Linked DNA regions of Homo sapiens: region 2 is linked to region 1. The links come from fine-mapping of genetic effects on gene expression. Tissue or cell type: monocytes. Region 1 holds a variant in brackets; the other region holds the start of a gene. All regions are shown on one strand. Distances are between the middles of the regions.

The links. PIP is the estimated chance that this variant, and not a neighbour inherited with it, causes the effect.
Region 2: it holds the start of ADI1, and the variant in region 1 is fine-mapped to the expression of ADI1 in monocytes (TOPMed, PIP 0.94).

What each region holds. Positions count from the first base shown.
Region 1 is chr2:3,487,996-3,496,172 of GRCh38, forward strand. No RefSeq gene overlaps it. Among named protein-coding and RNA genes, the nearest start is that of TRAPPC12-AS1, 8.8 kb to the left of the region's middle. The variant C/A (reference allele first, on the strand shown) is at 3,571.
Region 2 is chr2:3,515,237-3,523,413 of GRCh38, forward strand. It overlaps ADI1 (acireductone dioxygenase 1), which reads right to left and starts at 4,295. Exons shown (of 4, transcript NM_018269.4): 1 at 4,132-4,295. The coding sequence starts at 4,251. It overlaps LOC124907725 (a long non-coding RNA gene), which reads left to right and starts at 4,310. Exons shown (of 2, transcript XR_007086195.1): 1 at 4,310-4,720; 2 at 7,670-8,177. RefSeq lists silencers at 3,202-3,401, 3,882-3,941, 4,022-4,341, 4,412-4,541 and enhancers at 3,961-4,482, 4,483-5,003.

The sequences.
Region 1 (8,177 bases):
TATTCGAGCCCCTCCACCTCACAGACAGGCTCTGGTGGACTCCTCACCTCAACCCTGCTCCAAGGGTACATGATGTCCCCCTTTACAGACAGGGAGACTGAGGCACAGCTTGAAGAACCTGCCCACGGCCACACAGCTACTGCAGCAGCAGAACTGGGGTGATTCCATCTGAGCCTTCATCCATGCAGACACCTCCAAGCCCAAGGCATCCACGGAGGGCTCCTCCCTCGTCTTCTCCACACCCCAAGCTCACAGGGATGTTTCTCTGTGGAGGTGGAGCAGGCAGTGCTGCCCTGGGGCCTCTATCCTGGGATCTCTGGGGCCAGCTTCAATGTCATCATGGGTGGCCGCTGGCCCAAAGTCCTGCTCAGCAGCAGCAGCAGCAGGACAGGCCTCTGGAGAGCATGCCTCTGTCTCTGGCCCTGCCAGTGGCGTCCTTGTGTCCTTGGGGACCCCACACACACACATTCTTCTGCAGAGGCAATCAATAAAGCCGGGGCACCAAGGAGGCTTCAGGAGTGATTAGCAATGGAGCAGGCTGGAAAATACGCGGACGCTAGGGCAGATCGTATTGATTCCATTGACTTGCCCTTTGCCAGGCTGTTGTATTTATAACTCAGATGAAATCCTATTTGGATTTTAGAATGGGTGGGTTTATAACTCAGATGAAATCCTATTTGGATTTTAGAATGGGTGGGTTTATAACTCAGATGAAATCCTATTTGGATTTTAGAATGGGTGGGTTTTTTTGAACAGTTGGTGCAAAATAAACACAAGCATTTTTAACATGGACAATGAAACACATTAAACTATAATAATAAAGGCAGGCAGGCAAGCACGTCCATGGGAAAGTGGTTTCAGTTGAAAAGTAAGCTCCACCCCAGAACTGTCACACCTGCACTGCTCACGCCAGGGACAGACCGTGATAGGAGCACAGCCTCCTGTCCTCCAGCCCCCGCCCAGCCCAGCTTCCCCAGCCCTGCTGACCTGGGGGCTGTCTTCATGCCTGGATGCTTCTAGTGCCCTGCCCCCGCCACGTTTAAGAGAATGTTTTGAAAAATAATCACTTCCCAAGGCAGAAAACAGAGAGCAAAACACAGAGCGATTCAGAAGAGCCGCCTGCTCAGGGGTGCCCCGGATGTTATCTGCAACCTGGCACGGCCCGACTGCAGGCCTCAGCCCTGTGCCCTGGCCCCACCTGAGCAATTCCTCTGCCCTCTTCAGGGCCCAGCCAGGTGGTCACAGCAAATCTGGTCAGGACCAGGGACAATCAGCCCGCAGGGACGTCCTGCCTCAGCCATCCACTTGATGGTGACGACTGCCCCGACCCCTCTCTCTCAGCAGCTGTGCCTGCCTGGAGCCCCCGTACCCCTCACCCGGCCGTAAGGGCTGCTGCACCCTCTGCTCTCCTCACTGGACTGTGGCGTCCTGAGGAACCCACCAGCCACTTTCTTATGCATCTCGGCACTCAGGGGACAAAACCAGCTCTCCCGGAGGGGCTTGTGGGACCGAGTTTCACTGAGAGACATGGTGAATGGAAGAACTTCACGCATCATAGCAGGCAGAGGACTCCGGGAGCCCTTGACCCAACCCACAGGTCATCTTACCAGTACTAGCGACTCACTGCGGTAGTGAGTTGGGTGAGGCCCAGAAGTCCCTCCTGGTCACTTGCGATGGGATGAAGATATTTTTGAAACCTAGAGAGACAGGGTTATCTAACAGAGTAAGAAAGCCAGGGCTGGCTTCTTTCCCCTCGGAATGAAGTTCAAGCCTCCTCTGTCCCATAAGTGCACAAATGTCCACCGTGCTAACTTTACACGCTCCATTTTTACTTTGGGCAAGCAGGATTTGCAGCGCGGGAGAGATGACCTGGACATGAGCCGGCAGTGGCCTGCGCACCACAGGAGGCCCTTCAGCCGACGGCCATGTCTGCGCTGCGCGATCCTGTCCCTGTCAGAGCCGCTGACCTGGGTCTAGTCCCACAGAACCTCTCCTGGAGCCTTGGGGACCAGGGCTGGCAGCTGAAGTCACTCCTCTGCGTAATGGAATGAGAAGTAAGGCTTTAAGACGTCAACACTGTGTCTACACTGTGTCCCACCGTGAGCAGACGTGGCTTGGTCCCTGATCCCCCAGGGCAGGCACCCCCAGGCACAGGCTCCTTCACATTGGGCTTCTGTCACTTGTAACAAAAAGAGCCCCAACTAAGACAACAGAAGAGATCGTGTAACGACATTTCGAAGCACAGAGTCGGAATCCTGGGAAGACGAGAACGGCAATCCTGGGCAAAGCTCCAGGCAGATGCAGGGCCAGAGCCTCCCTCAGGGCTCCTCCCAGGACCTCCCCCCAGGGCTCCTCCCAGGACCTCCCCCCAGGGCTCCCGGCCTCTGCAGGTTGCCTGGGACAAGAGGTCTTCCTTCCTAGTCCCTCTAACCTCTCCACTGAGAGCACCCCATGAGCCTGGCGCCCCAGGCACTGTGCAGGAGGGAACAGCAGGCCGGCAGCCTCTGCCCTGTGGGTCCGCACAGCCTGGGGAGCGGGGACAGAATGCACCCCCCACTGCGATCCCACCTGTCTGCCTCCATCCTTCCCCATCCACTCCGAGGCCGGACGTTGCCTGACTAGGACAGCTCTTCTCCTATTTCTCAGATGTCTGTTCCATTGGTTTCTCTTTGTCAAGATGTCTGATCCACCGTCAGCAGTTTCTTGAGTGGAGGTGAGCACTGTGGTTAGGGAGTCACACTTAGGCACCAGTTACCTACGCCATGTAACAACACTGCTCTGAAACTTGTGCCTTATGACAGGAACATACATTCTCGCCTGCAGTCTCCGGGTTAGCTGGGTGGTGTGGGGCTCTCCTGAGGTTGCCCTCAAGGTGACGGCTGGGGCTGCATCATCTGAAGGCTCAACGGGGGCTGGAGGACCTGCTTCCACACACCCCGAGCCAGCAGCACTGCTGGCAGAGGCCTCAGACCTCCCCAGAGAGCTGCACAAGTGTCCTGCGGACGTGGCAGCCAGCTTCCCCAGAGCGCAATGTCTGAGAGCAAGCAGGAAACTACATGCCAACAGAGGCCACCCACAGCCACCTCAGCCGCTTCCTACTCATTAGAAACAAGTGACCAACAGAGACCATGCTGAAGGGGAGGATAAATTGAGGGAGATCGTCAGAAACTTGTGGTTGTATTTTTTAAAACAACACACTTAATTTTTTAAAAAATTGTTGTCATTTCACTGGATTTGGGGCACTGGGGAGACTGACCCACATCTTCTCCTCCACCACCCAGATTCCTATCATGTGCTGATCTGAACGTTTAATTTTCAGAAAGGAGAAAGTCTCCTCCAAGTTCTTCAGGAAATTCATCCCAATATTCATCAGATGCTTTTAAGGAACACCAGAAAAAACTCCAGGTCTGCCCTGGGGATAGCTCTGAACCCCCTGTGTGGTTTAACACACACAGAACTTCCCGTTGCACTGCTGACAGGTACCACGTGGGAAAGAGCTCACTGGGGTCAGCAAAGCTGGGGAAGCAAAGCTAAGCACAGCCCCGAGGCCTCCAGCTGCTCCCTGCACGA[C/A]GGCTCTCCCCAAGAGGGACTCAGACTCCCAACCCATAATAGAACCCTTTCAATGCATGGCTTCACAGACTAGCTTTCCTCAGAGCATGCATTGTAAAGACACCAGCCTGGAGCGTCAGTTGGGAGTTTATCATCCAAAGACCATTAGAGGAGCAAAAATCCCCACCTGTCACCCAGCTCCAAGAGTCAGAGACCCCCAAGTTGCAAGGAACAGCAAAGGAGCCCCACGCCACAGGCCACTCGGCCACCTCCCTTCCGTCTCCAAGGGGGTCTGAAGACCTCAGGATGGTGCAAGCCCCAGGGAGGCCCCGGAGAGCCTTTGTTTCCCCTTTCGGTGACTGAGCCAGCCCTGCTGTCAGCATCCCTGACGGGTCAGGCCATCCTAGGGCCCTCGCTGGCCAGGTGGCCCTGCACACACATGCTCCCAGGTGGCACCCGGGGCCAGAGATCCCCTAATGAATTTCTTGCTGCACATAGGCTGAGTCCAGGGACTGTACATGCTCTCCTGCATCTTTGCTGGGAGCTCCATCTCTGCTGGGAGCACCATGCTATATCTGCTGTGTGTCTGTGACCCTCATCTGTGACACCCTGGTTCCAGACTTTATTTTCGGTCTCAACACACATGTAATAAGAGATGTGTGCAAAGGGACTTTCAGGATAAACTGGCTCCACCACCCTATCCCTTCGCCAGCGCCTGGCCCAGTGTCCAGCACACAGGAGGCAAGCATTTCTCAGATGTGGGATGCATGGCGCATCCCAGCGTCTTCTTTGTCAGAGAATGAGGGAGAAAAGAAACCACCAGAGTCTCCTGAAGGTGTTGCTGGAAAGAGCCCAGCTCACTGGCCGTGCACCTGCAGGCCGCTGGCCTCAGCACAGCCCCATCCCTAGAGTTCTCCCACGCCGCTGACAACAGGCGCTCCATCCATGGCCCGTGAAGTGCCCACGGGCTGCAGGTCTTCCCTTGAGATTCAGAAAGTACCTGCCGCTCAGCCCCTGTACACACCTGTCATGCCTCTCGGGCTCAAGTGATCCTCCCACCTCAGCACCTCAGTATCTGGGACCACAGGTGCCTACCACCCTGCTCGGCTAATTTTTGTATTTTTAGTAGAGATGGCGTTTCACCATGTTAGCCAGGCTGGTCTCAAACTCCTCAAGTGATCCTCCTGCCTCGGCCTCCTGAAGTGCTGGGATTACAGGCGTAAGCCACCGCGCCCGTCCTTTTTGTAATTAGGTTTTCACTGCATAAATCATAAAACGATTACAGGTCTCCAGAAACTGCTGCCTGATACACTTTCCAAAGTAAACAGCTTTTGGAAAAATGGCTGTTTTTAGATCACATCTAAATGTCGCATTCTTGGTCTGTGTGACTAGAACCAGACTCCAGCCATCCACCCGCCCACCTGGGGTATCACACACCAGGCTCTGGGAACGCGCAAGAAGCCGGCATGCTGGGAAGTTACTCATAGCTCCTGGGGTCACCCTCCCGCCCCATGCCCATCCGGATGAGATGTTTTCGTGAGTTGCGTAACTCACAGCCACCCGGTAACACGATCGACCAACAGAGGCCTCACTCTCGGGAAACCGAGGAGCCCGGCCGAGGCAGGGGAGCCCATCTTAGTTGTCAGAGCTGCGTCATGAGAACAAAATGTCTGAAGCTGCCAACTTCACCACAGAACTAGGGAAAACACCTCCATCAATAGAACCAGACGATCTCCTTGTGGACACGCAGGAAAACGTCTGCAGTGGTTACCTCACACGCCCCTCCTTGGGGGACAGGCAGGGAAAGAAAGGTCATGGAGCCCACAGTGGCTCATTTACATCCCTCAGTTCGTAACCACCAGCCTCTACAGGCTCTCTGAAGAGCTCGCAGAAGCACACGTGCACACACAGGCACGCAGGTCCACACGCATGCACACAAGTCCAACCACATGCATGACGATGTAAGCGCAGAAATGAGACCCCCTCCATCTCGGATTGGGTTTAATCTCCTGCAAATCAGCAAATCAGCAGCCACTCTGTGCAGTCAGGTGCCCACTGCAGCCCGGTTTGCCTTTCTAAATTTCATCTTAATTTAAGGAGGTAAAGAATGAAGTCCACACTCCACAGGATAACTACTTCTAAGGAGCTGGAAAGCTGTCTGGCTTATTGACACAAATTTAAGAAGGAATATTTCCTCCAAAGTCTTGGGTGAACCACAGCAGCTTGGGCAGTGTGGACGTCTGGCGTCCTGAGCTTGTGCTGGGCTGGAAGGAGAGCGGGGGAGTTTGTAAGGCAGGTTGCAGTGGTGTGGGCGGGAGACAGGGGTGGCGTTCACAGTGAGAGACGGCCAGGGGAGGCCCCTAGGAAGAATCCGCCCATCACAGTGGACGGAAGCCACGATTGGACGTGAGGCTTAATGTGAGCTCTGTGTACAAACAAAGCAACCAGCTCATTCTGTAGACCAGTATTAAACATGCTTATATTTTAAAATACAATTTTGATGCAAGAATTGAATTTAGTAGCTATATTTTCTAATCAAACATTAGAATATGTGGTCTGTACATATACGGCCAGAGGACAGAATGTCAGAAATGGGGACTGCAGGAAATAAACTGAGCTACGCAGTCACTGTGAGCCTAGCTCCTCCCTGCTTCCACCTAGTTCCAGTCCGATGAGGAGTGAGTCTCTCTTCGTCCTTCCCTTCTGTAAGAGGTCAATTTAGGCTTTTTTAAAATGGAGAGTTCAGGGTCATGAGCTGATAGCGGAGGCCTCTTTATCGTCATTTTTAATCAGCTCACACACAGAGACCATCACTGGGGCCCTGGCTAAGGAGGGGCATCTGCTGACAGTCGCTGCTCAGAGGCCAGCGGAGCGTCTCACCGGGCTCTCCATTCTTCCTTCTACACTTGAATGATAAGGATCGCAAATTTAAAGTAAAATCTTGAGCCCCCCAACTGACTGAATGGAACCCGTTGGCCAACCTTAAAAAACGAGTTCCCAGCCGGGGCGCAGTGGCTCAAGCCTGTAATCCCAGCACTTTGGGAGGCCAAGGCGGGCAGATAATGAGGTCAGGAGATCGAGACCAACCTGTCCAACACAGTGAAACCCCGTCTCTAATAAAAATACAAAAAATTAGCCGGGCGTGGTGGCAGACGCCTGTAATCCCAGCTACTCGGGAGGCTGAGGCAGGAGAATGGCGTGAACCTGGGAGGTGGAGCTTGCAGTGAGCCAAGATCGCGCCACTACACTCCAGCCTGGGTGACAGAGCGAGACTCCGTCTCAAAAAAAAAAAAAAAAAAAAAAATGAGTTCCCAGGCACGATGGACGGGAGGTCAGACACACCCCACTATACCCCCTCCCTTTTGGGATTTAGACACAACTGGCCAGCATTCATGTTAAAATAGAGATGGTGAGACCAGAGAACAGACTGTGGCAATAAGACACAAATCACACACAGGACCTAAGGCCTGGCCAGGCTACAGCGAAGTCTCGCACCCTGAACCTAAATAAGAAACTCTGTCCTCACCACCACCAAGGTTTTCTTCTCCAGCAGCTAAACCAGCGTTGGCCTTGAGATGAGCAAGATGAAAACAAGTCGTAGTTTATCCACCACCCGATGCTGGCTAACTGGCCCTGTTCCACCAGCCGTAACTACAGCTTTGATGGAACAAGAGACCGATTTCAGTAACTTCCTCTGGACAAGAATAAGCCCATGGATGGGCTCTGGCCGGCTGATAGAGGCTGAGCACTGGGAGCCTTCATGTCCCTGTTTCACCTTTAGAAGTGCAGAGCCTGCCTGGGATGCACGTAGATGTTAAGTCTCCTCTCCAAGGTGAACATGGGTTGTATGTAAGTGGATGTTTGTTCAATACACATGCGTCAGGACCACTTCATGAATATTCACAGCTCCTCCTGTAACCTGTTGAATATGTATGATCCTCCAGCCCATTCAGCATAAAGCTCCTGCCCCTTCTCCTCCAAGATGCCTGTCTGCGGTCTCTGCGGGAGGCTGTGCTTCCCAGCCTGCGGGATGCCACCTTGCAGAGTGTAACTCTTTACAAGAAATAATGTCTTTAGGTGGGCATGGTGGCTCACACCTGTAATCCCAACACTTTGGGAGGCCCAGGCGGATGGATCACCCAAGGTCAGGAGTTCGAGACCAGCCTGGCAACATGGTGAAACCCCATCTCCACTGAAAATACAAAAAAAATTAGCCGGGTGTGGTGGTGCACGCCTGTAATCCCAGCTACTCGGGAGGCTGAGGCAGGAGAATCGCTTGAACCCAGGAGGCAGAGGTTGCAGTGAGCCAAGATCACACCCCTCCACTCCAGCCTGGGCGACGAGAATGAAACTCCATCTCAAAAAAAAAGAAAAGAAAAAGAAAGAATGTCTCCTCTTCTAAATGTATAGATTGTGTCATCTTTTAGTTAACAAGATGAAGAGATGGATGGCAAGAAGAGAAATAAAAATCAGAAAGGAGATGATCCTATTCACTTTTCGGAAGTGAGGACAAAACCAAATAGGGAAATGAGCCGCCGCAGGAATGAAGAAGCCTGTAACAGCTATTCCAAACCGGGAGAGCGTCCTGGGGCCAGGACTTCATTGGGATAAGATGTTGAATCTGGAAC
Region 2 (8,177 bases), 27 kb after region 1:
TTTCCTAGGAAGGAATATTAATATTAATACTCTGGGGAAGGAATGCATTTCTGGGGGGAGGTCTATAAACAGCTGCTCTGGGAATGTCTGTCTTATGCGGTTGAGATAAGGACTGAGATACGCCCTGGTCTTCTGCAGTACCCTCAGGCTTACTAAGGTGGGGAAAAACTCCACCCTGGTAAATTTGTGGTCAGACCAGTTCTCTGCTCTCGAACCCTGTTTTCTGTTATTTAAGATGTTTATCAAGACAATATGTGCAGCACTGAACATAGATCTTTATCAGTGGTTCTGCTTTTGCCCTTTGCCCTGTGATCTTTGTTGGACCCTTATCAGTGGTTCTGCTTTTGCCCTTTGTCCTGTTCCCTCAGAAGCATGTGATCTTTGTTAGACCCTTATTAGTAGTTCTGCTTTTTGCCCTTTGAAGCCTGTGATATTTGTACCTACTCCCTGTTCTTACACCCCCTCCCCTTTTGAAACCCTTAATAAAAACTTGCTGGTCTGAGACTCAGGCGGGCATCACGGTCCTACCGATATGTGATGTCACCCCTGGCGGCCCAGCTGTAAAATTCCTCTCTTTATACTGTCTCTCTTTATTTCTCAGCTGGCCGACACTTATGGAAAATGGAACCTATGTTGAAATATTGGGGGTGGGTTCCCCCGATACTCCAGAACATATTAAAGTACTAGTCATCAATACGTTATTTTCTACAAAGTTGACTCTAAAACTTAGCCTATCCACTGCATGATATGCACAGTACTATTTGCTATGGTCTGAATGTGTCCATATTATGACACATAATATGTAATATGACACATTATATGACACGTGTCATAAGTTTAAATATACGAATGTTGAAACTTAACACAAATGTGATAGTATTAAGGGGTGGGACCTTTAGGATGTGATTAAGTCATGAGGGCAAGCCCTCATTTATAGGATTAGTGGCCTTGTAAGAGAGATGGAGCTGGGCACTGTGGCTCACACCTATAATCCCAGAACTTTGGGAGGCCAAGGTGGGCAGATCACCTGAGGTCAGGGGTTCAAGACCAGCCTGTCCAACATGGTGAAACCCCATCTCTACTAAAAATACAAAAATTAGCCAGGCATGGTGGTCCACGCCTGTGATCCCAGCTACTCGGGAGGCTGAGGCAGGAGAATCACTTGAATCCAGGAGGCAGAGGTTGCAGTGAGCCAAGACTGCGCTACCAGCCTGGGTGACAGAGCGAGGCTCCATCTCAAAAAAAAAAAAAAAAAAAAAAAAGAGCAAGAGAGATGTAAGAGAGCAGTTTGCCCCTTCCACCACATGAGGACAGAGCAAGGAAATGGCCGTCTATGAGGACAGGATCCTCATCAGACACTAAATCTGCTGGCACCTTAATCTTGGACTTCTTAGCCTCTAGAACTATAAGAATTCTATAAATTGCTGTTGTTTATAAATTGCCCAGTTTAAGCTATTTTTGTCATTTTGTTATAGCAGCAGGTATTTAGTTTATTCCAAGCTAAAATAATCTTCCAATTGTTTGTATGTATGACAAAAGGTTTTTTAGAACTCTATGTCACTAATAACAGATTGATTAAACAGATACACAAACATGTCCACATGTGTTACCTCTGTTAAAAATTATGGGAGATGTTACATATATATAATGTTAATATGGGGTGTGTGTGTGGCTTTTTTGTTTTTTGGGTTTTTTTAGAGATGAGGTCTCAAACTTCTGGCTTCAGGCAATCTGCCGCCTCAGCCTCCCAAAGTGCTGGGATGACAGAAGCCACCATGCCTGGCCCAGGAGAGGTCACTGTTTTGGACTGAGCCCCTGCACTAGGCCCCAGGATGAGACCAAACCAAAATGCAGCCACTCATGCCATATGCCACTTGATCAAACTAAAACTTTAAAGAAGGAGGTGCATCTCAAACAGACCAGCTTTTCCTGCGATCAGAAGATTCCAGTCTTCCTGAGTCAGAATAATAAGGAAGTCGCTTCTGCTTTAACCCTTAGGAAAAAAGTAACCTAATGTAACTTGACGTTAACCAATCAGCTTTTCTACCTATTGTTCTGTTTCTTTGTTGCCGCCCTACAAAACCCACTGTTGTGCTATTACCCTATCGAGCTCTTATTCTATTTTGTAGAACGGAGGTTGCCCTATTCACAAATCAAGAATAAAAGCTAATTAGATCTTTAACTAAATTTGTTGTAATTTTGTCTTCCAACAGCACTGATCCAGAATGGATATTAAGAAAGCATATAGGCCGGGTGCGGTGGTTCGTGTCTATAATGCCAGCACTTTGGGAGGCCGAAGTGGGTGGATCACCTGAGGTCAGCAGTTCAAGATCAGCCTGACCAACATGGAGAAACCCTGTCTCTACTAAAAATACAAAATTAGCCCGGCATGGTGCTGTGCACCTTGTAATCCCAGCTACTCGGGAGGCTGACACATGAGAATGGCTTGAACTCGGGAAGATGAGGTTGCGGTGAGCCGAGATCATGCCACTGCACTCCAGCCTGGGCAAAAAGAGCAAAAAAAAAAAAGAAAGGAAGAATATAAAAACACACAGGACATTAAAACCACAGAGTAAACATGATTTAATTTTGATAGCCCTGACTCAGAGCAGAACTAGACGGTAGGAAAAACTATGTTTGAGCCCATGTAATAATCTAAAAGATGTCTATTAAAATAAATCTTATTTTATTCTTTGAATACATTAAGAAGCTGACCTGTAATCTCACTCTTGTTCTTGTTCTTAAAACCGTCAAATGCACAATGAAACTCCCCAAGTGTATTAATTTGAACCCTCTGGTTGTTTGGATTGTGGATAAACATAATAAGTCAAAATTTATTCTCCTCTCATTAATGGAAAACTATAAACCACTTGATTGCTTTGAAGAAGTACCCTCCAGCAAGGTAAGTGTTAAACCTTATCCTAGGAAAAGACAAATACTATGTAAACATTAACATGCATGCCCTGTTTCGCACTGGTATGCCAATTGTCACTTCCCTCTTCTGTTATTTAGGATAGAACAAGATGATATCCAAATAGATTATGCTGGAATATTCTATAATCCTTTCCCAAGGGAAAAAGTGTGGTGTCCAGGTAACCCTGTGTATTTCATTTAAATCACATGAATGAAGATTAGATCCAGTCACCCCTCAGCCTATCCCTGAGGCCTACCCTGGCCCTCTCTTTTGCAGTAAACCTTTGTTACTGCAAAACCATTTGCAAATAAACAAGGTGAGCGGATCTGGACTGGTGCTGTGCAAGCAACGGGACACCGGTGCAAAGCCTAGCCCCGCCTTGCAAAGCTAGCGTTACAGAGGCAGGGCTGACACCGGGCCCAGCCGGGACCCAAGCCAGCTCCACCGCCCACTGGAGACGCCCCCACCCCACCACCGAGCGCTACCCCCCGGGGATCCCCGACAGACCGCGGCAGGACCCCGCCTCGATCTGCTGGCGCCCGGTCCCTCCCCCAGGACACTTTCAAGCGGAGTCCCCCTTCCTCCGATAGAAGAAACCCCTGGGCCTTTGACCGAGGTTAGCCAGGCAGGCAGGGCGTCGGACAAGCCCAACGAGCCCACGAACTCGCAGCCCGCCTCCGGCGAATCTTGCAGCCCTGCCGGCCGACCCTTCAGGTCGCTGCCAATCCCGGAGCTGCGCGTGCGCAGCGAGTCCCGGCTGCGAGGCCCCTGACTCGCCAACTCTGCTGCTGAGCATGCGCAGCACACCCCAGGCAACAGAAACGGACCGCCGACCCCCACCAGCCCCGCTGCTGAGCATGCGCAGCCCACCCCAGGCGCCGGAAGCCGACCGCCAACCCCGTAAACTTCGCTGCTGAGCATGCGCAGCACACCACAGGCGCTGGGGGCTGACCGCCGACCCCTCAACGCCGCTGCTGAGCATGCGCAGCACACCCAGGCGCCGCGCAGGAGGCCCTGACCACCCAGCCCCACTGCTGAGCATGCGCAGCCCACCCCAGGCACCGGGAGCCGCCACGAACCCCCAAATCCCGCTGCTGAGCATGCGCAGCATGCCGCGGCTCCCAGGCCGCTGCCCGGCACCTGGAGGAGGCTGGGCTGTGCGCGGCGTTTGGGGGTCGGCGTCGCCCGCACGCTCTGCGAGGCTTGGGCTCGCGTACCTTCCAGTAGAGCACCCCGAGCCGCCGCAGCTGCTCCAGGCCCACTGGGCGGCCGGGGTCGGGGCGGTGGGGTTGCCGCGGGTCGCCCGGGGCGTCGTCCATATACCAGGCCTGCACCATGACGCGCAGTGCGGGTGCCGTGTTCGAACCCAGGGGCCGCGCTCGGAGCCCGTCGGCCGCGCTTTATCTTATAGGGAGGCGTGGACGCGCATGGGAGCCGGGATTGGGCGGCTGGTTGGAGGCAGGGCCGGCGCGGGGGAGGCCCCACGGCTCCGCTGTTTTCGGAAGCAAAGGCATTCAAGCCCCGACCCTGTCCTGGGCACCCTCGGACCTGCCTGAGGCCCGCGGCCCGGGGCCAGCCGTTCGCCAGACGCGCCGGGCAGGTGAAGCTCACCGTAGGCATCGCACGTGCCTTGTGTGTGCTGCCGCGGTCTCCCTGCACCTTCAGAGCAATCTTGTGAGGCAAACGACGTTAAACGTGTTTAGAGTATGGAAAGCAAATGCAAAAAAAAAAAAAAAAGAATAAGGATTTTGTTAAGCTCATGCAGTCCATATGGGCACAGTTGAGACTTCACAGCTCGGATCCCAGGTGAGACATTGTCCTCCACCTCCCCGCTCGCCAGACTTTTGCAGTGTCGGCATTCTGCAGTGCTACCCTGTACTTTTTAAACTTCCTCTTGTTTCCTCTTTTCATCGTTTCTCCCTTCCCCATACACTGTAATGTGCTAGTCTTAGAATAAAAACAAGCTTCCCCTATCCCATTCTGAATTTTTCAATGTAGCTAATAAAGTCCAGCCGCTTGACCATCCTAGATGTCTTTTCAAACCAACGAGTTGAAAAAGATCAGATTATCTCAGCCATTCCCTCAGTCTCTTTAACAAATAACGATAAAGCAGACAGGATTTAAATGAGACTGCTGTAAGAGCACAACCCCAATGCATGCAATTGACTCTTGAACTTCCAGAAATATTGCAAGAAAAATACACACTTATTTCATTTCTGTTCCCTTGCTCTAATGGCTTTGCAAATACATCCTCCTTAGAGAGCCTACCTCTCCACCTCTTCACTTGACCAGTTACTACTCATCCTTCAAGAACACACCTTAGACGCCATTGCCCATTTTTCTGCAGCACTCATGACAAACCTTCATGCAAGAATCTAATGGCAATCTCGCACCTCGCATTTTCTCCTTAAGCCACTGCAATAAGGCTTCGCTTCTCACCACTGGGGAACTGCTAATGACTGCCATATTGCCAGATCCAATCATGGCACTTCTGTTCTTACCAGCAACATTCGTCACAGTTGCCCACGCCCTTCTTGAAACATTTTCTCATTTTCCTTCATGAGGGCATCTTGGCTGCTCCTTCCCAGGCCCCTCCTAGCTCCTGCTCCTCTAACCACTGGTTAGTGGAGCGTTCCAGACTCTCCTCGTCCTGTTCCTATCCACTCACTCCAGGCGACTTTCCATGCTGTGCTGCCGGCTCCTGCAGCCACATCTCCAACCTGGACCTCATTCCAGAACCTCAGGCTTGAGTATCCAGTTGGTGTTGTCACATACATGGCTAATCAGTGTGTCAAACCTAACATGGCCAAAACAACTGATTCCCCACACACACCCCCAAACATGCTTCTCCCTAACCTTTCCCGTCTCAGTGAACGGCAGCACTGACTGCCCAGTGGCTTAATAAAAAAATCTAGGTGTACTCTCAGTTTTGCTTTTCCTCACCCTCAAGATCCAATCCAATCTATCAGCAAGTCATGTTGCTTTGACCTTCGAAACACACCGCAAATCCATTCACTTCTCTCCAGCCCAACTCTTTCTGCAGTCTTTTCTTGCCTGATGGAATTGACTACTGAAATTCCCCCTCCTCACACCGCTTCCATTTTTGCCCCAGTGCAATCCATTCTATGCACAGCACCCAGAGTGACCTTTTAAAAATAGGAGCCAGATGCCAGGCACTGTGGCTCACGCCTGTAATTCCAGCACTTCGGGAGCCCAAAGAGGGTAGATCACTTGACCAGCCGAGGCAACATGGTGAAACCCCGTCTCTACTAAAAGTACAAAAATTAGCTGGCCGTGGTGGTTTGCACCGCTAGTCCCAGCTACTCTGCAGGCTGAGACAGGAGGATTGCTTGAGCCTGGGAGTCTGAAGTTGCAGTGAGTTGAGATTGTACCACTGCACTGTAGCCTGGGTGACAGAGCAAGACTCTGTCTCAAAAAACAAACAAACAAAAAAACATGGAATCCAGTCAAGCCCCTTTTCTGCTTCAACCCTCCTTTCTATAGCCTCGGCCTGACCACCTCACAGCCCATCGCCCTCCTTTCTTGTTCTCTGTCCTCCAGATACTTTGGCCTTTCAGTGTATTTGAGTCATATGCTCCTCCTTCCTTTGGGCCCTTCACCCATGCAGTTTTTCCACTGAAAATGCTCTTCCTTCCTCCAAGTACTTTTCTCCTATACAAAATTCTAATTTCAGCTTAACTATCCCTTTCGTAGAGAAGCCTTCTCTGACCACTCCCTAGACAACTAGATGGGCTCTCCGTGTGAAACACTGCCATGGTGCTAGCTTAGAGTTTGTAAGGACATGTTGACTTGATGTCTTTTCACCAAAGGACTGACCACTCCATGTGTTGTTTGGTACTTGCTGAATGAATGGATTTGTCTGTATTGCTGAGTGCCGCATATACCTTGAGGTCAGAGAATGTGTCTTATTAGTCCTTCAGTGCTTGGTACATAGTAGACAATTTTTTTAAAAGTTTGTTGAATGAAGGGATAGGATGAGGAACACTCCAAATAGTCTTTACTGTCTTACTGTAACTGCACTCCTATCTCATATCTAATGCTTCTCATTTACTAGAAAATAGTAGTACTAGGCTGGGTGCTGTGGCTCATGCCTGTAATCCCAACACTTTGGGAGGCCAAGGTGGGAGGATCACTTGAGGCCAGGAGTTCCAGATCAGCCTGGGCAATACAGCAAGACCCCATCTCTACAAAAAATATTTTTATTAAAAAGAAAATAGTAATTGTGACAATAATAATAGTAGTGTGTGCTGGGTAACATTTTAAAGATTTGATGCATATTATTATTTTTACTCCTCATGATTACACTGTGAAGTTGGTATGACTTATTATCCACATTTTAAAGATGAGACATGGGAGGCTGAGGCAGGAGGACTGCTTGAGCCCAGGAGTTTGAGACCAGTCTGGGCAACACAGCAAGACCCCATATCACTTAAAAACAAATGAGACAACTAGGACACAAACAGGTGAAGTAACTTATGGTCACACAACCAGAAGTGACAAAGCTGGTATTTGAGCTTGGGGAGCCCAGCCCAACAGCCTGTACACATAACTGCTAAAATCGAGTACAAGAAGTAATGATGTGGGTTTCATCCCATCGTAGAATAAACTTCATCTTGAAATTGGAAGAGTGCTTCCGGTTCCCCTCCCACCCCCAGGCTGCGGCAGCCCCACACCATTATGTATCTACCATTTGTCAGCCTCTGTCTTCAGTAGCTGTTCCTTTTTTCCTATTAGGTATGGGGGAAACAGTTTTATGCCATAAAAAACATACTTTAGAAAAGCAAGATGATGGAGAGGCTCTGAGGAATTGCCAAGGCAGCCCAGCACTTGCTGCTGGCAGGAGTTCAAGCGGGCAGAATCAGATGAGAACAGCACTCATTACTTCATACGGACATTGCCGGCCCATGGGATTCCTCCTTTGAAGAGGAATCTTTGGAACTTGAACTGTCTCTTCCAGAAGAATAGCCAGCAGCAGCCCAAAAATATGTTTCATGACCAGAATTTATCACCCCGATGTAAGACACTTGGGAAGAATCTGTTTAGATGTTTTGAAAGACAGATGGTCGCCATCGCCGCAGACCTGCGCAGACTGTTATCCGTCTGGGCTTTGTGATATGCTCCCAACCCAGGGGCGCGTTAACAAACCATATAGGGATACAGTAGAGCCACAGAAGAACAGGAAGATCCAAACTGCTGGAATGTGGAACGCAGATAAGGCTCTATAGACGGGCAGCAAGTTTTC